Homo sapiens: one gene and its partners. The protein of the gene in region 6 purifies or fractionates together with the protein of the main gene of each other region. This does not show direct contact. Each region holds a gene or a part of one and is shown on either strand. Other genes may lie near its edges. The genes, in order: NEK10, CTCF, PPIE, WFDC5, POLE, SMC1A and RFC1.

Region 1 (3,500 bases), on a different chromosome or scaffold from region 6:
ACCGTCAATAGAAATTACCATCTCCACAACTACTCTCCTCCCACCATCCCTGGAGAGATTTTTGAATTTTCATTTTCTATTCAAGGGCTGAGTATATGCATTAGGAAAAGAAAATGGTAACAGGAACAGAAAGAGCAGCAAGGACCTCTGACCAAGTTTGGATATTTCTCATTTCTGGGCTTCCGGGAAAAAGGGAGCTAGGACTGAGTTGGAAGGAAGAAAGCTGTGTAAAGAAAGTTAAAGAAGGTCATAAAGGCTTGGCCAGCCTCGTAGCTCTTCCCAAAGCAGGCTCTATTTTTGATCATTTGCATGGTTGTATGATAAATTACATTTTACATACATAAGCATACTATCATGGATAGTATGAATGTTTCTGTTTTTAACTGTGAGCCTCATTATTTCAAGTGCCCTTGGCTTGTACTGGGGAAAAGATGACTCTTGTCATTTTATCTGCATTTTCTCAGAGACTTGGGATCATGGGCAAGGAATGTCTTCATATTTTTTGCAGAAAATCATTTAAATATCAAGAAAAACTAAGTGTGCAAGGAACTTAAGGAAGCTCTTACAAGAACTTTTATTTTCCCTTTATTAAAAAATATTTGTCTTATTTTGGAATTTATCATTATTCTTTTTCAATTCTACTTTCATTAGGTTTTAAACCGATCTAGTTCCAAAGACATATGGCTTTATTAAAAGACATTGCAAATTTTCTTATTATGATAAACAGATAATAAGATGCCTTATAACAAAGGCAAAAAATTATTCAGTTATATTTGTAATTGTGAATCTATTATGAAGGTATGATGAAACAGTCAAGTTTAAGCAATATAAGTTGGGTATTGCATTAAATTTTCTTAAAGTGCTCCAAATTAAAATGAATCACATTTAAAAATCCATATATCCATGGTATTCCCTTTTTGGCTTCTTTTTTTTTTTTTTTTTTTTTTTGAGATGGAATCTCGTTATGTTGCTCAGGCCAGGCTGAAGTGCAATGGTGCGATCTTGGCTCACTACAAACTCCACCTCCTGGGTTCAAGCGATTCTCCTGCCTCAGCCTCCCGAGTTGCTGGGATTATAGGCGCCCACCACCACACCTGGCTAATTTTTGTATTTTTAGTAGAAACGGGGTTTCTTCATGTTGGCCAGGCTGATCTTGACCTGGCCTCAGGTGATCCACCTGCCTTGGCCTCCCAAAGTGCTGGGATTACAGGCATGATCCACCACACCCGACCCCCTTTTGGCTTCTAATAGCAATGATAGAACATATCTTGGGAGAAAAACTCTCCAGAATTTGTTTGTAAAAATAACCCTTGTTTGTGCCTAAAGCCACTCTTTGTTTACTAGTATTCCAAAATAATTTCCAAGAAATAAGTCAGGCTTCAATTAGAAGCACCTACTAATCCACAAACTGTGAATAACACATAACTCCAAGTACAAATCAGATTAGCTGGTACTGTCATGCTTTTTTCCACAAAGGATGGAGGGTGCTAAATGTCACAGCATATGTAGAGGTATTTAGAATCAGTATTTAGAATTAGTAGACTGCATTTTTCCCCAATAGGTTTCATAGAATGGGCAATATTATCAAAGATGTCAATAGATAGTCTCTGAAAAATAAAGTTTCATGGCCACATATATTTGGGAAACTCAGAATGTACAATTTTTTATATTTGGAGAATGTTGACACCTATTACTATATTAAAGACTCTGAGATGTACTATAAGAAAGAAATCTGTTGACCTTGTTTGTTGACCTCAGTGTTTTCCTCACTCTTTACATGGAATACAATTGAGGAAAGCTGTTTTAGCTATGTGGTTGGAAATGAGGAACACCGTTTTCACTCCTTCACCAGGGTCTACCCAGATCTCTGTTGTTCTCATTGACATGGTCATCATTGTCATCATCGTCATTGCAAAATTTGTTCTTAAATGAATTAAGCACCGTGCTGAGAAAGTTACATATATAATTTCGGTGTTATTCAAGTTTACAATTTAAGACTATCAGTTTGAATAGTACACACATCATCTAGCCAGCCAGTCACTAAAGGATTAATTCAAGATAAGGTACATTTTTGGTTTAAATTATAGGGTTTATATTTAGTTAAGGAAGAGAATAGAGAGGTGCCATTTTCAGACTGAAAGTCTCAGGATAAAGCCATTATCTATCTGTTAGCTATCTTTGAGGAAGATTTCTGGAACTGTTTAAATCATGAGGAGACTGCTTGGACAGTTAGGAAGAATGTCTCAGGCATAAAATGCTGCATTAGGAAAAGAAAATGGTAACAGGAACAGAAAGAGCAGCAAGGACCTCTGACCAAGGTTGGGTATTTCTCATTTCTGGGCTTCTGGGAAAAAGGGAGCTAGGACTGAGTTGGAAGGAAGAAAGCTGTGTAAAGAAAGTTAAAGAAGGTCAAAAAGGCTTGGCCAGCCTCATAGCTCTTCCCAAAGCAGGCTCTATTTTTGATCATTTGCATGGTTGTATGATAAATTACGTTTTATATACATAAGCATTTAGCTTGCTTACCAGAAGGATGCAACTTAATATGCCTTAATTTTATCATTGTTGTTTGTGAGGATAAAATCATTTGAGTCATGAATAAACAGATAATGAGCATATAATCTTTATGAATATACTTATGTATTACATTAATATTTTATTTTTAATAATAAAATGTGTTGAGAAATAACAGTATACAAGATAACAAATCTACATTGAATCAACTTGAATTGTTTTATTTCCCCAATTGACTGATAAGCGTGTAAATTAGTTATTTTAACCTACACAGGTATTCAAGTATACAAGCTATTTTGAATGAATATTTGTTTTTCTACTACAAAGTGTTATCAGTTCCTATTGAGTTCATAATTTGAGAAAGGCCTTGTTAGCACCAGACTTCAGCCAAAGGCAGCTTTTTAAAAATGTCCCCATCCTAACAAAAATAATCGTCTTTTTATTTACTGTGATTTATTTACTTATATGCCTGAGCCCCAGTTTTTGAAATTGAATGTATGAACTAAAATATTTGTAACTATAGAGAATTCTTTCCACTTCTGAATCTTATAGGTATCATTCCTATCCATGGGGGACCAAGAATCACCCAACCAAAAGATGAAAATGCTGCATTTTGAGTGGACTTGATTTTCTCAGTGAAGTTCAAGTTCTGGACTTCAGCCGCTATTGCAAGATGCCCAAGGATTGGGTGCTGCTAGAGGGTGTGGAAAAGACCAAGATGCCATGGGGCCTGCAGGACTTCTTTCTGGGGGTCCTGTGCTGGAGTATATGACAGCTGCGGTACTTGAGGGCTTCATTGCCAGAACACATTATATACAGGATGTCAGAGCTACCAGTGTGCTGCTGGGAGAAAATGCTGCAAAATTCATCTTTTGGAGGGTGGGGGGAAAACCCAAAAACAACAACAAAAAAACTCTCTTACAGAATTTTCCTTAACATTAAAAAAAACTTGTCATATTTTTCAAAGGCACATTTGATACTCAGAATTG
Region 2 (3,500 bases), on a different chromosome or scaffold from region 6:
ATGATTCTCCTTCCTCATTTTCCCGAGTAGCTGGGACCACAGGTGTACGCCACCATGCCTAGCTAATTTTTGTATTTTTCAGTAGAGACGGGTTTCACTATATGTTGGCCAGGCCAGGTCTCAAACTCCTGACCTCAGGTGATCCACCCACCTTTGCCTCCTAAAGTGCTGGGATTCTTTTTGAGATGGAGTCTTTGTCGCCCAGGCTAGAGTACAGTGCAGTAGCACAATCTTGGCTCACTGCAACCTCTGCCCCCCAGGTTCAAGCCATTTTCTTGCCTCAGCCTCCCGAGTAGCTGGGATTACAGGTTTACAGGCATACACCACCACGCCCAGCTAATTTTTGTACTTTTTAGTAGAGACAGAGTTTTGCCATGTTGGCCAGGCTGGTCTTGAACTCGTCACCTCAGGTGATCCACCTGCCATGGCCTCCCAAAGTGCTAGGATTACAGGCGTGAGCCACTGTGCCTGCCAACTCTTAGACTTCTCAAAGCATGACCCATTCTTTTTATTTTAATTCTACTTTTTGCCTTGGTGATCTTATCAGCTCCCATGGGCTCAAATTCTAACAACTCTTTGTGGCATTGGTGGTACAGTGATAAGCATAGCTGCTTTCAAATCCTAACAACTTGTACATTTATATTCCTACTCCAGATCTTTCTTTTGAGTTAGCCTTATATAACTGTGTATCCCTTGCCATCCCACCCCTGCTTTTATATCTCTGGCATTTCAAATTCAGCATGTCTAAAACTGAAGGTCTAAAACTTCTCTGTCCCCTATGCCCCCCCACCCCCCGACCCTGAAAATAACACATACAACTTGGTCTTAAGCCCTCTTCCACTATTCTTGTCTCAATAAATGACCCCAACAGCTACCTGGTTTTCCAGGCCTGATACCTACTTTATTCTTCACTCTCTACAGTCACTAAATCCTGTTGATTCAACTGCTTCCATCTCTCATCAGTTCTTCCCCTTCCATCCACACCCATTGTCATCACCCTTGTCCCAGCCACCATCTTCTCCCACCTATCCTGTTTGAACAATCTTAATTGTTCTCCCTGCACCTGTTACTCTGCCTTTTCATTCATTTTCTGTATAGCACCCAGAGTAATACTTAAGAATCAGGAGAAATGGGCTGGGCGCAGTGGCTCACACCTATAATTCCAGCATTTTGGGAGGCCGAGGCGGGCAGATCACGAGGTCAGGAGATTGAGACCATCCTGGCTAACATGATGAAACCCTGTCTCTACTAAAAATACAAAAATAAAAAATAAAAAAATTAGCCGGGCATGGTGGCGGGCGCCTGTAGTCCCAGCTACTCAGGAGGCTGAGGCGGGAGAATGGCATGAACCTGGGAAGTGGAGCTTGCAGTGAGCTGAGATTGCGCCACTGCACTCCAGCCTGGGTGACAGAGCAAGACTCCGTCTCAAAAAAAAAAAAAAAAAAAAAGAATCGAGAAATGTATTAGTAACTTGTTAAAATGCTTGTTTGTGTTTTCACATTACCCTGGGCTTTTTACTGTGCTTTCAGGTGTCCACTTGCGAAAGCAGCATTCCTATATTGAGCAAGGCAAGAAATGCCGTTACTGTGATGCTGTGTTTCATGAGCGCTATGCCCTCATCCAGCATCAGAAGTCACACAAGAATGAGAAGCGCTTTAAGTGTGACCAGTGTGATTACGCTTGTAGACAGGTAGGAACCTTCATTGAAAGTTGTTGGTGCTTTCTCGGTGTCTGGTGTTATCAGAGGGCATTTACATATCTAGTACAGTGGCTGTTTTTAAAGATAGTATTTTCAAACTGTGGATTATGAGGAATGTCACCAAAATCAAAGGTCATGCTCCTTGTCAATTGTGTCATCCCGGTGTCCAGATGATGTTTTATTCAGTCACAGCTTACCTCTTCCTTAAGCAGACATCTTTCTGAAAACTGTGGAAAGTAAGTCCAGGACTTGAGAGAGGGGAAGAATCTCATGCGGGGACATGACTGTTGGGAGGGAGCCAAAGAAGGAGCTCAGCAGGAATAAGCAGCTCTATCTGTGCTACAATTATGGAAGCAGTTGTGCACCACACTAAAAATACCTTTATCAAGCCGGGTGCAGTGGCTCACACCTGTAATCCTAGCACTTTGGGAGGCCGAGATAGGCAACAGAGAGAGACCCCATCTCTACAAAAAGAAAAAATTAGGGCCGGGCGCGGTGGCTCGAGCGCCTGTAATCCCAGCACTTTGGGAGGCTGAGGTGGGCGGATCACTTGAGGTCAGGAGCTTGAGAGCAGCCTGGCCAACACGGTGAAACCCCGCCTCTACTAAAAATACAAAAATTAGCCGGGCATGGTGATAGACGCCTGTAATCCCAGCTACTCTGGAAGCTGAGGCAGGAGAATCGCTTGAACCTGGGGCGGAGGTTGCATTGAGCCGCGATTGCGCCACTGCGCTCCAGCCTGGGTGGCAGAGCGAGACTCTGTCTCCAAAAGAAAAAGAAAAAATTAGCTGGGGCCAGGCACGGTGACTCACACCTGTAATCCCAGCACTTTGGGAAGCCAAGGCAGGCAGATCATTTGAGGTTGGGAGTTCAAGACCAGCCTGGCCAACCTGGTGAAATCCCATCTCTACTAAAAAAAAAAAACAAAAAAACACGAAGGTCGGCCGGGCGCGGTGGCTCACGCCTGTAATCCCAGCACTTTGGGAGGCCGAGGCAGGTGGATCACAAGGTCAGGAGATCAAGACCATCCTAGCTAACACAGTGAAACCCCGTCTGTACAAAAAATCAGCTGGGCGTGGTGGTGGGTGCCTGTAGTCCCAGCTACTCCGGAGGCTGAGGCAGGTGAATGGCATGAACCCAGTGAGCCGAGATTGCGCCACTGCACTCCAGCCTGGGCGACAGAGTGAGACTCCATCTCAAAAAAAAAAAAAAAAAAAAAAGTCAGCTGGGTGTGGTGGCAGGCACCTGTAATCGCAGCTACTCAAGAGGCTGAGGCAGGAGAATTGCTTGAATCCGGGAGGTGGAGGTTGCAGCGAGCCAAGATCGCGCCACTGCACTCCATCCTGGGCGATAGAGCGAGACTCCGTCTCAAAAAAAAAACAAAAAAAATTAGCCAGGCATGGTGGCTCATACCTATGGTCCCATTTTGAAGCTGCAGTAAGCCATGATCACACCACTGCTCTCCAGACTTTGCAACAGAGCAAGACCCTGTCTCTAAATATATAGCTTTATCATCTCAACAAGCCGTGTGGAGTCTAGACCTAGCTTGGGTGAGAAATACCTGTTGGCCACATGCATGCAGGTGGCAGCTGGGGCAGTAGCCCCATGAGCAGGCTCTGAGGCCTTTCCCCCTATGCCGTTTCAGGAGAGGCACATGATCATGCACAAGCGCACCCACACCGGGGAGAAGCCTTACGCCTGCAGCCACTGCGATAAGACCTTCCGCCAGAAGCAGCTTCTCGACATGCACTTCAAGCGCTATCACGACCCCAACTTCGTCCCTGCGGCTTTTGTCTGTTCT
Region 3 (3,500 bases), on a different chromosome or scaffold from region 6:
AAACCACCCTGTGTGACCTTTGGCAGTCACGCCAATAAAGCCTCAGTTTACCTGTGCAGGGTTCCAGTGTGCATTCAATAACATCTGTGAACACCCAGGAGGAACACTGGGAGAGGAGTCCACACCCAATGGCTCCAAACCTGCTGAGCTTTCAGAACTGCCCACTGGCCTCCACCTCCCCAGAGTATCAGGGAGGAACAGAGTGACAAGGTTGTCACAGGAGTCTGTCCTTTTATGGGAGGCTGGCTGTGCTTTTTCTACACACTCTCTCCTGGTTCTCGTCCAAGCACTGAAGTCAGTGCTATCATCCCCAGCTTCATAGATGCCTGCCTAACACCTGTGACTGACCTCTGATGGCCATTATTTGCACTCAGAGAAGGGGCTGTGCTTTGAGGGAGGGTCTCTTTTGGAAGCTCCATAGGGGTGAGGGGTAACCATGTAGTATATCCCAGCTACATGGAGCCTGAACTCAGTCAACTGTAGCAGCTGGAGCTCACAAAGTCCAGTCGGCACATGGGAGCCAGAGGTAGGGCAGAATGCCACCATCCCTCAGCAAGAGCTATCCTAGGGTCATGAGGACCACCTAGCCTCTCCTGCCTCCTGGCTCATCCAGATCTCAATCCAAGATGCAAAAGCTCAGCTCAGTGGATTCTGAATGGTCTGAGTGACCCAACCCACAGGAGGTGTCCAACAGCTACAGGACTCAGTCCCTGCTAAAAGCCTTCAGCAGATGAGATTCTTTATAACCGCCTGGCTGACCAGCATCTGGAGGGGGAGTGGAGAGAAGCCAGCTCCAAGAAGTGGCTGCACACAGGAGAGCCAGACTGTGAGCTCAGCAGGGGGTGGGACCATTTGTTCTCTTCAGTGGCTGGCAATCCTGTTTTGTAAAGGCTCAGATAGTAAGTATTTTAGGCCTTGGGACTGTGATGGTCTATTTTGTGTGTCAATTTGGCTAGGCCATGGTATCCAGTTTTTAGTCAAACACTAGTCTAGATGTTGCTGTGATGATGGTTTCTTTTTTTCAAGACAGGGTCTCCCTCTTGTCACCCAGGCTGGAGTACAGTGGCATGACCATGGCTGACTGCAGCCTCAACCTCCCAGGTTCAAGCGATCCTCCCACCTCAGCCTTCTGAGTAGCTGGGACTATAGGTGTGCACTACCATACCTGGCTTTTTTTTCTCCCCCTAGAGATGGGGGTCTCTACATTGCCCAGGCTGGTCTTGAACTCCTGGGCTCAAGTGATCCTCCTGCCTCAGCCTCCCAATAGTGGTGGAATTATAGGCATGAGCCACCATGCCTGGCCTATTTTTTAGATGGATTAATATTTAAGTCAGTAGAGAGTAAAGCAGATTACCCTCCATAATGTGGGTAGGCCTCATCCAATCAGTTGAAATTCTTAAGAGAAAAAAGACTGAGATCACTGGAGGAAGAATTCTGCTTCCAAACTGCCTCAGAGCTGAACTGCAACATCAGTTTTTTTCCTGAGTCTCCAGCCTGCTGGTCTGTTGTGCAGATTGCAGACTTGCCAGCTCCTACCACTGCTTGAGCCAGTTCCTTAAAATAAATCTCTTTCTACATATATACACACCCTATTGGTTCTGCTTCTCTAGAAAACCCTAATACAGGGACCATAGCCTGTATTGTGTCTATAGCCCCTTACGCACCTCTGCCACTGCAGTAAGAAACCACCATGGACAATATGTAAATAAATGGACGTGGCTGTGTTCCAATAAAACCTGATTCATAAAAACAGGCAGTGGGCTGGATTAGGCACATGTAGTTTGTTGGCTTCCTGTCTCCTGACAAATAGGCATAGTACTTGGCACAGAGAAGGCACTTTGAGTTATAAAAATTTCATTTTTTAAAATCTGTAGGGTGAAAGTGAACAAATAAACAAATGAACCACTGAGAGTACACTTGCTGGCTGTAAGGCCGGCAGCTGGGTTTAGGAGCAGAGGCAGCAGAAGACCGGAGCTTTCCAGTCTTTAATTTCCGTTGCCCTGACATCGATGCCTGGTGTGAAGATACATCACCTGACATCTAAGGGGATCGGCCCAAGGGAGGAAATGAAAGCTGTGAAAAAGATGCTCTGCTCTCCCCACTCACCAGCCTGCCTCAGAGGTCCAGCTTAGCCACAGACACAATCTCTGACAACTCCCAAGAACTAGCAGGAAGAGCAATATAAGAACTAGGGTTTATTTTAGCAAAGAAAACACGTAAGAGCCACACTGGTAGTCCCAGGAGAGGCCCAGCAGCAAATGCTGAGAAAAGCCAGTGGCTTTTTGCACAGCCTGCCCATGGTGGAGGGGAGCACCTGAGCTGGCTCCTGGGCCCACAGCTGTGCCTGGGAATAGTCCAGGCTGTGCCTGCAGAGGAGCTGCTCCAAGCAGACCCTGAGGAAGGGCACATATCCCAAATGCTGCTTGCTTCAAACAGGCACCCTCGGTGCTGCCTCCTCTGAGGCTGGCAGTTCCTTCCTGGATATGCAGGGTCAAGAGCGGAGGGGGAAGCAGAGAGAGTGCCGCCTCACACGTACTCCCCACAGTCGGCGATGATCACCTTCTGCTTTGGCTTCCCGTCCTTGCTGCCCTGGGCCTTTGTGGCAGAATAGAAGTGAGGGAGTAAGGCCGGAGACTAACAGTGGTTTAGGGATACCAACCCCTGCCTGCCCATTTGCCCACTTCCACCCCGGAACCTGGGCAGCAGCAGCCCCTCCCGCTGGACACAGCCCCTGGCCATCTCTCTCAGGCCACAGAGACTCTCCAGCCCTCACACAGGGCTGTGCTCCTAGGGCCTGGGTAAGGAGGAGGCCCATTCCTGGCCACATACCTCAATTTGCCGCAAGACATCTAGGCCTTCGGTGACCTCTCCAAACACCACATGCTTGCCATCCAGCCAGTCTGTCTTGTCACATGTCAGGAAGAACTGAGAGCCATTGGTGTTTGGGCCAGAGTTGGCCATGGATAGTAGACCTGAGGGAGAGAACAACCATCAGCTCCCCGAACCCTGGCTACCAGCCCTTAAAGGACGTCTGTGCAGGCTGTTGACAGCCCTTCAGCCAGTCAGGCTCAGACTCGGGGATGCACAGATCACATGCAAATGCGGCCACCTTATCTTGGATTCAGTTAATAGTCAGTGAAATGGTAAGTGAGGTGTTTCAATCACTTTATACTGGTCTGTTCTTTCATTAATTCATTTATTTAACAATTAAGTGTCTACTTGACAACCAGGTCCCTGTTAAGCCCTGGGAACACTGATGAGCAGAACATAGTCCAAGCTCTGGTGGAGCTCACAATCAGTGGAAAAGAGCCATTCAAAATGACAGCTATGACACAGTGAGGCCTGGTAACATGGACATTTGTCACGTAAGAGAATGTACATGTATATGTGTGTGTCTGTGTGTGTATGTGTACATGTATGTATGTGTGTGTGTGTCCACAATGACTCCTAAGTTTCTGATCAAGCGGCTAAGTGGATGGTGGAGTCATTTATTGAAACAG
Region 4 (3,212 bases), on a different chromosome or scaffold from region 6:
AAAACATAGACTGGCCGTGCACGGTGGCTCACATATGTAATCCCAGCACTTTGGGAGGCTGAGGCAGGTGGATCACTTGAGGCCAGTAGCTTGAGACCAGCCTGGCCAACATGGTGAAAACCTGTCTCTACTAAAAATACAAAAATTAGCCAGGCATGGTGGTGGGCACCTATAGTCTCAACTACTTGGGAGGCTGAGGCAGAAGAATCGCTTGAACCCGGGAGACGGAGGTTGCAGTGAACCAAGATCGTGCCACTGCACTCCAGCCTGGGCAACAGGATGAGACTCTGTCTCAAAAAACAAAAAACCAAAAACATAGAGTGAGTACAGGCTTCAGGCTCAGTCTTGGCAGGTGGCTGTAGCTAGCTAGAGTTTAATAACACTATTTAATATCATTTAATCTGACATGATTTACTTTAATGGAACTGAGCTGTTTCCATTGCATTTGTTTTCATAATTCCATTTGTGGTAATTGATCTCATTTATAGTAGTGATATCAATTTTCTTTTGAAATGAATTTATTTATATACAAAAGTGAGCCATTTAAAGAAAACATTAAGTAAATGGTGGTACAGGCAGCGTGCAACCTATCATGGTGCTATTTTGTAGGTATGGTGAAAATCATGAAAGAGGTGAATGACTGATGTTTGGAAAACTCTGCAAGAATATTCATTCTGGATGGTTGGGCTGCCTGAGGGAGAGGTCAGGGTCTGCCTGAATTGGGCATTTTTGGTGGAGGAAGCAGCATGTACGGATTGGTGTGAAAGCGTTAGGAAGGGTGGGAAGCTCGTATGGCAGTGGTGCAGAGTACTGGGGTGATACAGAGGCCTTCCTCCGAGCTCAGGCTATGGACTTTGACTCCCAGGAGGAGAAACCAGGGGTGGATGGGTTGCAGGGAAGTGTCAGCAGGCCAGTGATTATCAGAAGGCTGGAACCACCGCTGGTAGAGATAGTGCTGTCCAGCGGGCAGGGCCCCAGGCCTCCCATCGTGAACTCTTTCCGTTGGTCCCCAGCTTAGGTGCAGAGCCACAGATCCTAAATCAGAATTAGCCTGAGGAGGGAGAAAGAAAGGGTTAATTCCTTCCCATAATAGGGCTCTGGTTTCTGGCCTTGGTCTCCCATCCATGCCCCACCAGCTCAGCTCTGGTTGCCACCAAGGCAGGATTCCTCTGCCCCCTTCAAAAGGGCAAACAGAAGCCCAGAGCAGTTTAGGGCTGTCATCCAGGTGCCACAGCAAGCTCAAGAAGAGAACCAAGGACTCCCGGGTCCTCTGTCATCCTAGCAGGACTCCTCCAACCCCTATCCAGTTTCCTAATCCTGGCCATGGGAGGTCCTGACTTCTGGGGAGGCATCCTGTTAAGCTTGTAGCAATGAAGAAAGTATTAGAGCTGGGCTCGGAGAGGGGAGGCACCTGCCCTGGGCACCCAGGAGCCGTACCTCTGGCAGGATCCCGGCAATCCCGCCCGCAGGCGCTGTGGCAGCATCGCTTTTTGCCCGAGCAGTCTGAGTCCTTGTGACACAGGTGGTTCATGGGGCTGAGGCAGCGCAGTTGGTCCTCTGGGCAGCTGCCCAGCTTCACTGCAACACAGGGAACTGGGTGAGCTCCGTCCTTGCCCACTGGCCCTGAAGCTTGGGGCTTGGATGGTCAGCAAGGTGGAGGGGAGGCATTTACCAGAGACCCTGGGGACACACTGGCGGAAGCAAGCTCTGTAGCAGCACTTCCTGGTCAAGGGACACTGGCTGTCTTCCACGCACTGGTCAGGCACCGATAGGAGGCAGGGCCCATCATCTGGCGGGCAGCCCCCCGATTTCTCTGTAAGAGAATCTCCTAATATTGCAGCTGGAGGAAGCTCACGGTTATGTAATAAGCGCTGACCTGGGAATGACAAGACTGAATTCTCCATCCCTTGCTTTTTGCCTGTCTTTTGGCTAGTTGTTATTTTTGTTTGTTTGTTTGTTTATAATGACTCCAAGCCTCAGTTTTCTGGCTGTGAAATGGGAAGCTGGGCTAGTTTGAGACTCAGATGGCACAAATGACAGGGGAAAATGAAGCCCAACATCTCCACTGTGGCCAATAAGGCCATGCCTGGTCTGGGCCCTGCCCATCTCTCTAGCCCCATCCTCTACTGCCCTCCCACTCAGTGCCTCCTGATCTGCTCCAAGCCAGCTCTCTCTGCAGGGCTCTTGCTCGGGCCGCATCCTTTGCCTAGTGCACTTCTCCTGTACTCCATGCGCCTGGTCAGCTCATTAGGACTCAGCAGAAACATCGCATCCTCAGAAGACCCTACTTCTCTGACCCCACATTAACTAGGTCAGCGCCCCCCCACCCCGGCCCCCACACACACACTCATTTCTTTCCTCCAGAGTTTGTGATGCTGCATCTGTTTGTCTGTGTCTCTCACTTGGCTGGAGGTGAGGAGAGTAGACACCCTGCCAGCTTTGCTCACCGTTGGTCCATATCACAGCCCTTGGCGCACAGCAGTAGGGCTCAGTGACTTGGAAAGAAAGGGTTTTGAAGTGAGGCCCAGCATTGCACGTGCGTCAGCAGTGGCCAGCCTGGTGCACTGTCACAGCCACAGCTGGCCACGTCTTCTGCACCGTTGCGTTCATCACTGTTGCAAATGGCATGGTTTCGAGGATCAGGCGTTAACTCTGTCTCTGAGGCGTTCCTCTGAATGGTATAGAGTGTCCTGTCCCAGAGCTTACCTAACATTCTTCTTGCTGGGATTTTGGGCCATGTTCATATTTCATGCACAAAGCTGGAAATCAGTATCCTCCTCCATGTAGAGGAGGAAATCAAGGCCTGAAAAGGGCAGTGACTTGTCCAGACCCACATGGGCTGGGCTTAGGACTCCCAGGGCCCGGCTCCCTCTGACCTCTGTGAGTGTCCACCCTGAGCTGTCTTTGAGCTGTAGGGATGGAGCAGGTCCCAGGTCTTCAATTCAATCCAGCATCAGAGAAAATGTTCAAGAGTTCCGAGGGGCAGCTGGATCTGGTTCTGTGACTTTACCTCTGTGTCCGCCCCTCCCCCTCAGCCCCCTGCCTGGGTGCTGGCTGCACACATAAGTAGGCACCTTGCTCACATCCTACGTGCGCTAAGTCAACTTCAGCTGTCACATCGGGTTGGTTTAAATTAAATTGCTGCCCCCTGCTGGAGAAAGAGAGGCTTGGCGTGGGGAGGGGGAAAAAGTGTGGGTTTGGGGTGGTGGGGG
Region 5 (3,500 bases), on a different chromosome or scaffold from region 6:
CTTCATCCTAAAATTTCCAGTTTTCTGGAGAGAATATTCTTCAGTGCTGGAGAGTGAATCTGACTCAAAGATATGTTTGCTGCTTTTCCCCCAAATACTTTATTAAAGGAAATATGGAGTTAGAATTTTTCATCAGTTTCTGACAGTATCATTTCCTTTTTTGTTGTATATCACTGTATGACATCAGTGTTTGAGCTAGGCAGGATTTGGACACTCGAGGGAAAGCTGGGACTTCCGTTTGGGTAGTTGATAGTGAAGGGACATGGTGAAAAATGGATTTGTAACTAGAAGGCCTTGGTTCAAACATGACTTTGTGGTGTTGGGAAAGTCTTTGTATTCAGTTTTCTCTTTTCCGAAATGAAGATATCATCTCTGTGCCACAGTTACCTTTCAGAGTTGTCATAACCACCAGAATGAGGTGATGTCTTTTGAAGAGTTTTTCTCCTAAAGTTCTGTGATTTTAGGCTTGTCCTGTGATCAGCTGCTCTCTTAGGTATGTCAGTTTTCATACCATAGGGAGTCGTGATACTCTTGATGTAGGTTGGTTAGTCTTAGGGTCCTTCTCCCAGCTCTAGAGCCTTTTGACTCTTTTAACAACCAGAGGGAGGTAGAGCAGGCTGGGGGTGGGTGTTCAGGGAGGCCTAATGGGGAGTTTAGAGCTTGGCTTTATGCTTATTTTGTCCCCACAGGACCCTGTGGTTTTGGCATTTGACATTGAGACGACCAAACTGCCCCTCAAGTTTCCTGATGCTGAGACAGACCAGATTATGATGATTTCCTACATGATCGATGGCCAGGTGAGCAGGTGGCTTCTGGGAAGTAAGCTCCTGGGATGGGGACCTTGTCTGGTCCCCATACTACAGCAGCATCTGCCCCACTGTTAGTATTTGTTGAGTGAATAATGAGTTAGTCCAGGAATGGGAGCAACCAAGCCGTTCCGACCTCCAGCTGTACCCTCCCCTTTCGAGTGGGAATCCACACACAGAGCGTCTCTTCTCAGGAAGCTTAAAGCACTTTCACATTGCTGTGGACTTCTTTGTAGTGAGAATCTCTAGGCAGAGTGTGTGGGCAGGGTGGGAACGCCATTTCTTGGCTTTGCAGCCTCTGACTTGTGCTGATTGCTAATGAACTTGGCTAGGGCTACCTCATCACCAACAGGGAGATTGTTTCAGAAGATATTGAAGATTTTGAGTTCACCCCCAAGCCAGAATATGAAGGCCCCTTTTGTGTCTTCAATGAACCCGATGAGGTAAGGAGGTATCACTTGGGAAACTACCCGGTATTGTGGGAAGAACGGACATGTGGATCTTTCCAAGGCCTCAGGCATTCCGTCAGATCAGAATTGCAGCTCCATGAGCTTTGTTCTCAGGGTATGACCGTCTTTTCTGCCAGAGACGGGCGGAGGGGCGGGGCAGGAATAAGGGCCAACATGAGGCTGCTGCTTCTGAACTTTGGGAGAGGAATTTGGAATAGCTTGAAGAAGAGAAAGAGCAGACCTCTGACTGCTGTGACTTGGGTTCAGGCTCATCTGATCCAAAGGTGGTTTGAACACGTCCAGGAGACCAAACCCACCATCATGGTCACCTACAACGGGGACTTTTTTGACTGGTGAGTCTGTGTCTTCTCTATGAGTAACTGGGCAGCATTTGAGAGGGAGGGCGTTGCGTGGTGCAGGGGCGCTTCCCATGTCGACTTAGGAGGTGGCTCCTGGGTTCACTCTGCACCTCCCGTGTCTGGGTTCCTCCCTGGGTCTGAGGGAGGAATGGAGAAAGGGGCATTAGAGCCTGACCTGCCCACTTGCTTGTCTGTCCTCTTTCCAACCCAGGCCATTTGTGGAGGCCCGGGCAGCAGTCCACGGTCTGAGCATGCAGCAGGAGATAGGCTTCCAGAAGGACAGCCAGGGGGAGTACAAGGCGCCCCAGTGCATCCACATGGACTGCCTCAGGTAGGGGCCACAGAGCAGCATGGCTCCTCACTGCTGTCCGTGAGCGAGATCTGAAGGCCTCTTGCAGACTGTGCTGTCACCACATCTCATGGGAGGAGGGTGGCCTCCGAGAGGCCGTTTCAGGTCACCCAAGAGTATGGCAGCTGCAACCCTGCCAGGGCCCGGGATGTGCTGTCTTTGACTGTTGACTGACAATTCATCAGTGACCAGGCACATTGAGCATCAGCCTCTGGGGTGGGGAAGCCGCTGGAAAGACGCACTCAGCTGACAGGTCCCAGACCTAGGACCTCATGGAGCTGCTCTGCCCAGGCAAGGTTGGGATGTGGCAGCCCGGCTGCCTCACAGGACAAGCCTCACGGGACAACCACAGATTCCATATGAGCTAGGGTGGGAGGCAGCTCAGAGCTTCGGAGAGTCACGGCGTTCGGGGGCTCTGACATGACTGGTTGGGAAGACAGGTGGATGTGGAAATGCCAACAGAAGGAGGCTGGAAGGGAAGGAAGGGAAGGGAGGGAGGAAAGGAGGGAAGGGAAGGAAGGGAAGGGAGGGAGGGAAGGAAGGGAAGGGAGGGAGGGAAGGAAGGGAATGGAGGGGCCTCCACGGCCTCTGTATTCTGCACAGTGCCACTGGGGTGCTTGCAGCCTGAATGCGTTTCTGTTTAGCTCTGATGCTCAGCACTTGGCTTGGAGAGGGAGGCCAGGAGGCTGGGGCCGGTTTAGCGTGTGACGGTGTGACAGTCCTGATCCAAGGCAGGGAGTGAGGGTTGTGAGGATTCAGGATCTGTCATGTGGGGCAGGGGGAGGCCCAGGGATGCTGGTTCTTAGGGAGGGGTTGGCACCTGGGGTTTTTGTGCCATCCGTGGAGACAGGGAATGGGTAGAGAAGGGGCTTGAGGCAGGAGGTGACCCTGCTACCGATATGCTAGCCTGGAAGCCCCACCCATATGGGGGCCCTGAAGACCACCATGAGGCTTGGTTTGGGCTCGCACTGTAGATTGGGACTCACTGGGTTGCGGGTGGGTCTTGGTGAAAGCTGGGGTAGTGGATGAACTGAAGGCAAGAGGTAAAGTGAGAGAAGAAGGCCACAGGGTGGAGGCTGCGGGGGGTGGAGACCGGACATGACCCCTGGACAGCTGCTCCAGGGAATGCGTCTGTAGGGAGGAGGTAGAGACAGGTTCCGGGTAGAGTGTGGGGGGCCTTCTTTTCTTAATTTTTATTTTTTATTTATTTTTTAAATTTTTATTCTTCTTGGCATCTGATCACATCTTGCCTTCTATTAAAGGAGGGTGGGCTTGAGTGTTTCCGTGCTGAAGGGACAGTGTGAGGAGAGAAGATCAGTGTGGTTGATAGAACTAGGCCCCAGGGGTGCAGACCTGAGGTCTGGGGAGAGGCCCAAGGAGGTGGGGCGCCCGTCGGAGAGGCCACAAACTCTGCTGAGGATGGGAGGAAGGCGAGGGCCGGAAGGACCAGTCCTGGTGCTTCCTTGTGTTGTGGATAGGTCTGTGAGATTAACTAGATCCTGATGAAGGGTTTTCACAAGGTGTCTACACCATGTGG
Region 6 (3,500 bases):
TAGCTGGGCGTGGTGGCGGGCGCCTGTAATCCCAGCTACTTGGAAGGCTGAGGCAGGAGAATCGCTTGAACCTGGGAGGTGGAGGCTGCAGTGAGCCAAGATCGTGCCACTGCACTCCAGCCTGGGCAACAGAGTAAGACTCCATCTCAAAAAAAAAAAATAAAATAAAATAAAATAATAATAATAATAATAATGTAAAGTAAAATTTAAAAATAGGCTGGGAGGAGGGGAAAATGGGAGGTTTTTTTTTCTTTTGAGATGGAGTCTTGCTCTGTTGCCAGGCTGGAGTGCAGTGGCGTGATCTCAGCTCACCACAACCTCCGACTCCCTGGTTCAAGGGATTCTCCCACCTCAGCCTCCCGAATAGCTGGGATTACAGGCACACATCACCACACCCAGCTAACTTTCTGTATTTTTAGTAGAGACAGGGTTTCACCATGTTGGCCAGGATGGTCTCGATCTTCTGACCTTGTGATTCGCCCACCTCGGCCTCCCAAAGTGCTGGGATTACAGGCATGAGCCACCACGCCTGGCCTGGGAGTTGTTTTTTAATGGGCATAGATTTTCATTTTTGCAAGATGAAAAAGTTCTAGAGATCGTTTGCACAAAAACGTGAATATATTTAACACTACTGAACTGCACACTTAAAAATGGTTAATTTAGGAAATTTTATGTGTATTTTACCACCATCTAAAAAAAGTGCATATTCCTGTTGTGAAACAATATGAAACACACAGCATCATTTATGATGTATCTTACCAAAAATATTTAACCTGAATCTATTTTTTTCCTTTTTTTAATTTTTTGTTATAATAAAGACAAGGTCTCGCTGTGTTGCCCAGGCTAGTCTTGAACTCCTGGCCTCAAGTGATCCTCCCGCCGTGGCCTCCCAAAGTGCTGGGATTACAGGCATGAGCCACCATATCCAGCCTAATCTGAATCTAAACAAGCCTTCAGACTTATCTTCCAGTTCCTAGGAAATACAGCAATACAATATAGAGGAACATAGTAAGGTTTTCATGAGGAAATCTTAACACAAACACAGAATGTGGGATGTTCTCAAAGACAAATGGCCTGGTCTTTTCAAAAAGTCAGTGTCTAAAAAGAAAGGGTGAGCCGGGCACGGTGGCTCACGCCTGTTATCCCAGCACTTTGGGTGGCCGAGGCGGGCGGATCACCTGAGGTTGGGGAGTTCCAGACCAGCCTGACTAACATGGAGAAACCTCGTCTCTACTAAAAATACAAAATTAGCTGGGCATGGTGGCACATGCCTGTAATCCCAGCTACTCAGGAGGCTGAGGCAGGAGACTCGCTTGAACCTGGGAGGCAAAGGTTGCGGTGAGCCAAGATCACGCCATTGCACTCCAGCCTGGGCAACAAGAGCAAAACTCCATCTCAAAAAAAAAAAAAAAAAAAAAGTGAGCGAACCATTCCAAAACATGAGAGATTTCTGAGACATAGGTAAACAGTGCACAAACTTTGACTGGACTCTGGTTCCAAAATAACAAAAAGACATTTGGGGAGCAAGTTAAGGAAGCTTAAATATAAACTGGATAATTGATGACATGAGGAAATTTTCTTAGTTGTGATAACTGAATAGTGGTAGTACAGGAGAATGATGATTTTAAGAGGTGAATGCTGAAGCACTTAGGGGTGAAATGTAATTGAGTCTGTAATTTACTTCCAAATGACTAAGTAATGCACATATATGCTTGCAAATTTTCATAATAAAACTTGGGAGAAGAGAAGGCATAGGAAACAAATATATGAAAACGTAAACAGTGCAGCAGTGATTGCCTCTGAAAAGGAAACTAAGCAGCTAGGGTCAAGGGAGTCTTCTTTTTACTACTGTATATCCTTAAGGATTTTTAAAATTGTATACCATGTACATGTACCAGCTATTCAAATAAATAAGGTTTTCAACATTAACAGTGGCTATCTTTTCAGTAGTGGAGTTACAGCTTTTACTTTGTTCATTTTAGAATCCGAAAACAAAAAAGGTTTCATTTACTTATTTTATTTATTTTTTGAGATGGAGTCTCGCTCTATCGCCCACGCTAGATTGCACCTACCAAGTTCAAGTGATTCTCCTGCCTCAGTCTCCTGAATAGCTGGGACGACAAGCGTGTGCCACCACACCTAGTTAATTTTTGTATTTTTAGTAGAGATGGGGTTTCATCATGTTAGCCAGGCTGGTCTCGAATTCCTGACCTCAAGTGATCCACCCACCTCGGTCTCCTAAAGTGCTGGGATTACAGGCATAAGCTACCACGCCCAGACCTTATTCATTTATTTATTGAGACAGGGTCTGACTCTGTCACCCAGGCTGGAGTGCAGTAGCAGTATCACAGCTCTCTGCAGCCTTGACCTCCTTGGCTCAAGTGATCCTCCTGTCTCAGCCTCCCAAGTAGCGGGAAGCATGGGCATAAGCCACCATGCCCAGCTAGTTTTTGGATTTTTGCAGAAGCAGGGTCTCCCTATGTTGCCTAGGCTGGTCTCAAACTCCTGAGCTCCAGAGATCCTCCACCTTGGACTCCCAAAGTGCTGGGGTTACAGGCATGAGCCACCGTTCCTGGCCAAAAAATAGATATTGTTTTAAAAGTTTAGGCCGGGTGCAGTGGCTCATGACTGTAATCCCAGCACTTTGAAAGGCCGAGGCAGGCGGATCACCTGAGGTCAGGAGTTTGAGACCAGCCTGGCCAACATGGTGAAACCCCGTCCCTACTAAAAATACAAAAATTAGCCAGGCACGGTTGTGTGCCTATAATCCCAGCTACTCGGGAGGCTGAGGCACGAGAATCGCTTAAACCCAGGAGGTGGAGGTTACAGTGAGCTGAGATCGCGCCACTGCACTCCAACCTGGGCGACAGAGAGAGACTCTGTCTCAAAAAAAAAAAAAAAAAAAAAAAAGTTTAGTCGGGCTGGTGGATAAGGAGGAACAGTTTAGTCTCTATAATTTCTATCTCAAGACTGTCCCTAAAGAACTTATATATGACTTTGAACTGAAGATCTGATTTCCAACACCTTTCTACTCAGCCATAAAAACAGCAGCCCAAGTCCTTCCATAGAGACGGTATAAGACTATGATTAGGTTGGACACGGCATCTCACGCCTGTAATCCCAGCACTCTGGGAAGCAGACGTGGGTGGATCACTTGACCTCGGGAGTTTGAGACCAGCCTGGACAACATGGCAAAATCCCATCTCTACAAAAAATACAAAAATTGGCTCGGCATGGTGGCACACTCCAGTTGTCCTGACTACTGGGAAGGCTGAGATGGGAGGGTTGCTTGAGCCCGAGAAGTTGAGGCTGCAGTGAGCCATGATTGTGCCACTGTATGCCAGCCTTGGTGACAGAGCAAGACCCTGACTCCAAAAAAAAAAAAAATAGGCCAGGCGCGGTGGCTCACACCTGTAATCGCAGCACTTTGGGAGGCCCAGGTGGGCAGATCACGGGGTCAGGAGTTTGAGACCAGCCTGAACAACGTGGTGAAACCCCGT
Region 7 (3,203 bases), on a different chromosome or scaffold from region 6:
ATACATGTAAATCTAAGTACGTGCATTTTTCTGTGGATAAGTTCCATATTTTTCATAACATTCTTAATAGAGCCCATGACAAAAAAGACTGAAGGTGGGGCACAGTGGCTCATGCTTCTCCATGAGAATCTTGAACCCAGGAGGTGGAGGTTGCAGTGAGCTGAGATTGCGCCACTGCACTCCAGGCTGGGTAACAGAGTGAGATTCTGTCTAAAAAAAAAAAAAATACGTATATATATATTTGGGAACTTTAGGCAAACAAACAAACAAAAGGTCACTTCAAGTCATCATGTTTACCTATTCAGCATTCTCCACATTTCTACAAAGTAGTAAGCAAAGTTAATCAGTGAATCAGTAAATCAAAAAGGGGCTCGGCTGGGTGTGGTGGCTCACGCCTGTAATCCCAGCACTTTGGGAGGCCAAAGCAGGCAGTTCACATGAGGCCAGGAGTTTGAGACCAGCCTGGCCAACATAGGGAAACCCCATTTCTACTAAAAATACAAAACTTAGCCAGGCGTGATGGAGTGCACCTGTAATCCCAGCTACTTGGGAGGCTGAGGCATGAGAATGGCTTGAACCCGGGAGGCAGAGGTTGCAGTGAGCCGAGATCGCACCACTGCCCTTCAGCCTGGGCAACAGAGCTAGACTGTCTCAAAAAAAAAAAAAAAGGTTGGGGGAGCTCATCACAAGATATAAGTTGGCCTTTAATTTCCACAAAACACTAGATACCTTTTCCATAATAAGAGTAGTTACTTCAAAATACTAAGTAACTTGAAAGTCTTACCTTCAAGCTTCTAAACATAATTCCTGAATTAGTCCATGAATTCTAACAATGGATGTCTGCTGTGAGAATTTACTGATAACCATAAAGTCGGGTCAAAATTCTGGGGAGGGCAAACTACAGAGAATATGTCTTCTAAAACGCATTCATTACACAGGTGCAAGAGTTGGGTATTGGATGTTACATATTCATGATGTATCACTTTAGTTTTTTTCGTCTCATTATAAGAAAAGTGGGGATACATTATTACAGAGAAGATTATCCAACTGGAATAAATACTGAATCCACAGATTAGGTAGACTAAGAAAAAGAAAATTTGTACAAATCCTCAGCCAATAAACATATTTTATTTTTACAACCCATTACCACCAGAGCTCACCGCTCAACTTTTAATTCCCTAGACTCATCCACTCATCCTTTATAAAGAATATATTTATATTTGCTCCTCAAATTTCACTTCTTGCTTTTCCACTGAGCATAAAGCAAAGATAAAAATACAAATTGTAAAGTCAAGCCCAGAAGTCTACTCTTAATACTGCATTCAAATAGTATCTTTGGAAAATATAGGCCATAAGAAGCAACAAGCATTTGAGGGGAAAAAGAAGTAAATCTTAAAGCATCTAAAACACCTCCGAAGTATTGTCAGTACAAACCTGGTAATAGAAAGTGACGAAGAACCAGTGAGTGACATGATTTACCTTGGGATCCAGCTTTGAAAAGGGACTAGGTTTGCCACCCCAGCTGCTGATTTCCATGATATTCTCAAAGTCTTCTTTCATCAAATAATATGTGTCCATAAGTGCAACAACATCCTGTACTCCGTCTACTCCTTGTGAGGTCAAGGGCTGTACAAGTGCATCCCTTAGAAGCGACAGATAATCCATGTTTACAGTCCTTTTGCTGGAGTAAGTTCTGAAACCACAACAAAAGAGACATAGTCAACAGCAAAGTATCAACTCAAGTCATACTGTGCATAACAGCACTGAGTTAATCAGGCAGAGTTCAATCCAATTTCAATAATGCTGAATGGAATGCCTACTATTTGACAGCCAGCTGGTGTAGTTTAGAAAGCCCAGCACCACAGCATGAGGGTAATGGGTACACATCAATGTGCCCAAAGGAAATTTTCTACTTACCTACATCAGTGACTGAAAAACATACGTGGATTCTACTTCCACCCTACTCTTAAGGCCCAGGCAACAGAATGTTTCTTTGTGTTCATAAATATGACTCGTTCCAAGTTCCAAAATATTAAAAGCATCAGTATAAGGCAATGAAATTCCCTATCTCAAGTGTGTGAATGTGTATAACACCTTTTGGTCCCTGATTATAACACACAAAATCATATATGAATGCTTCCCTCACATTTCCTAATACTGTTACTCTGAAATCGTCAGTTCTAGAGCCGGCTTTTCTCCAAATCTAAGAAAATTACAGAGTGTTCCCACAAAATCAAAAAGTGATCCACAGTGGCCAGAGGAAGGTTTAGGGAAACAGTCTCTGGTCTGCTGAGAACTCGAATGTTATCATAAAATGACTCTTTCTTTCTCTCTTAAATGTTGTCACTTCTTAAAGACAGAAAGCAACTGAACAAAACAATATTTCAAATGCCACCATCCTAAATCTTTCCAACCCAGCTGCCTCTATCTTCAAACCAGGCATTTATATGTATACATTATTTATTTATTTATTTATTTATTTATTTATTTATTTATTTAAAGACGAAGCCTCACTCTTGTTGCCCAGGCTGGTGTGCAGTGGTGCAGTCTTGGCTCACTGCAACCTCCACCTCCCGGGTTCAGGAGGTTCTCCTGACTTAGCCTCCCAAGTAGCTGGGATTACAGGCACCCGCCACCACACCCGGCTAATTTTTTTTTTTGTATTTTTAGTAGAGACAGGGTTTCACCATCTTGCCCAGGCTGGTCTCAAACTCCTAACAGGTGATCCACCCGCCTTGGCCTCCCAAAGTGGTGGGATTACAGACGTGAGCCACCGCACCCAGCCTGTATACGTAAAACTTCAAAAGTTGTTGTTATCAGAACCAGCATCAGAAGCAAAAAGAAATGATTCTTTACAAATTGTCTATGGGTCCTGCTCCTGCCTTCAAGGAACTGAATGTGTGAACCATAAGAAGCCACAGCTTTTTTCCTGATCAGAAATCTAGACTCACCCTCGCAACTATTACCTAGACAAAGAGTTTTTAAAACTCTCCTAGTTTAATTTCATCCATTTCCTCTAGATTGTCTTCCATAATTAAGCACGCTAGTACTTAAAGGAAGCAGTGTGAGTCCCTAAGCCACAGTACCCCCAGAAATCATGAAACCATTTCCAAAACTGTTCTACAATGTTTTACAGTATCATCATCTTCTAATAGACTCATAGAAAAGTCAAAGATGCCATTTAGTGCACCTAAACCAAGGGT

Evidence for each region.
Region 1: the proteins of SMC1A (region 6) and NEK10 purify together in Homo sapiens (co-immunoprecipitation; one large-scale study listed by IntAct). This does not show direct contact.
Region 2: the proteins of SMC1A (region 6) and CTCF purify together in Homo sapiens (affinity purification with western blotting; 2 studies listed by BioGRID and IntAct, with this or other methods). This does not show direct contact.
Region 3: the proteins of SMC1A (region 6) and PPIE purify together in Homo sapiens (affinity purification with mass spectrometry, with the first as the bait; one large-scale study listed by BioGRID). This does not show direct contact.
Region 4: the proteins of SMC1A (region 6) and WFDC5 purify together in Homo sapiens (affinity purification with western blotting; one study listed by BioGRID). This does not show direct contact.
Region 5: the proteins of SMC1A (region 6) and POLE fractionate together in Homo sapiens (co-fractionation; one large-scale study listed by BioGRID). This does not show direct contact.
Region 7: the proteins of SMC1A (region 6) and RFC1 purify together in Homo sapiens (affinity purification with western blotting; 2 studies listed by BioGRID and IntAct, with this or other methods). This does not show direct contact.

The regions. Positions count from the first base shown.
Region 1 is NC_000003.12:27,110,884-27,114,383, reverse strand, and holds part of NEK10 (serine/threonine-protein kinase Nek10), read left to right. Parts: intron 1-85; coding exon of another isoform or gene 86-104; exon of another isoform or gene 105-158; intron 159-3,063; coding exon 3,064-3,112; 3' UTR 3,113-3,500. UniProt on the Homo sapiens protein: Plays a role in the cellular response to UV irradiation. Mediates G2/M cell cycle arrest, MEK autoactivation and ERK1/2-signaling pathway activation in response to UV irradiation.
Region 2 is NC_000016.10:67,625,026-67,628,525, forward strand, and holds part of CTCF (transcriptional repressor CTCF), read left to right. Parts: intron 1-1,529; coding exon 1,530-1,690; intron 1,691-3,344; coding exon 3,345-3,500.
Region 3 is NC_000001.11:39,752,382-39,755,881, reverse strand, and holds part of PPIE (peptidyl-prolyl cis-trans isomerase E), read right to left. Parts: intron 2,973-3,500; coding exon 2,830-2,972; intron 2,596-2,829; coding exon 2,527-2,595; 3' UTR 1-2,526. UniProt on the Homo sapiens protein: Involved in pre-mRNA splicing as component of the spliceosome. Combines RNA-binding and PPIase activities.
Region 4 is NC_000020.11:45,108,963-45,112,174, forward strand, and holds the end of WFDC5 (WAP four-disulfide core domain protein 5 precursor), read right to left. Parts: exon of another isoform or gene 1,905-3,212; coding exon of another isoform or gene 1,814-1,904; coding exon 1,673-1,813; intron 1,579-1,672; coding exon 1,438-1,578; intron 1,052-1,437; coding exon 1,047-1,051; 3' UTR 501-1,046; downstream 1-500.
Region 5 is NC_000012.12:132,673,843-132,677,342, reverse strand, and holds part of POLE (DNA polymerase epsilon catalytic subunit A), read left to right. Parts: intron 1-689; coding exon 690-797; intron 798-1,138; coding exon 1,139-1,249; intron 1,250-1,522; coding exon 1,523-1,608; intron 1,609-1,825; coding exon 1,826-1,945; intron 1,946-3,500. UniProt on the Homo sapiens protein: Catalytic component of the DNA polymerase epsilon complex. Participates in chromosomal DNA replication.
Region 6 is NC_000023.11:53,416,155-53,419,654, forward strand, and holds part of SMC1A (structural maintenance of chromosomes protein 1A), read right to left. Parts: intron 1-3,500. UniProt on the Homo sapiens protein: Involved in chromosome cohesion during cell cycle and in DNA repair. Central component of cohesin complex. The cohesin complex is required for the cohesion of sister chromatids after DNA replication.
Region 7 is NC_000004.12:39,290,160-39,293,362, forward strand, and holds part of RFC1 (replication factor C subunit 1), read right to left. Parts: intron 1,694-3,203; coding exon 1,480-1,693; intron 1-1,479. UniProt on the Homo sapiens protein: Subunit of the replication factor C (RFC) complex which acts during elongation of primed DNA templates by DNA polymerases delta and epsilon, and is necessary for ATP-dependent loading of proliferating cell nuclear antigen (PCNA) onto primed DNA.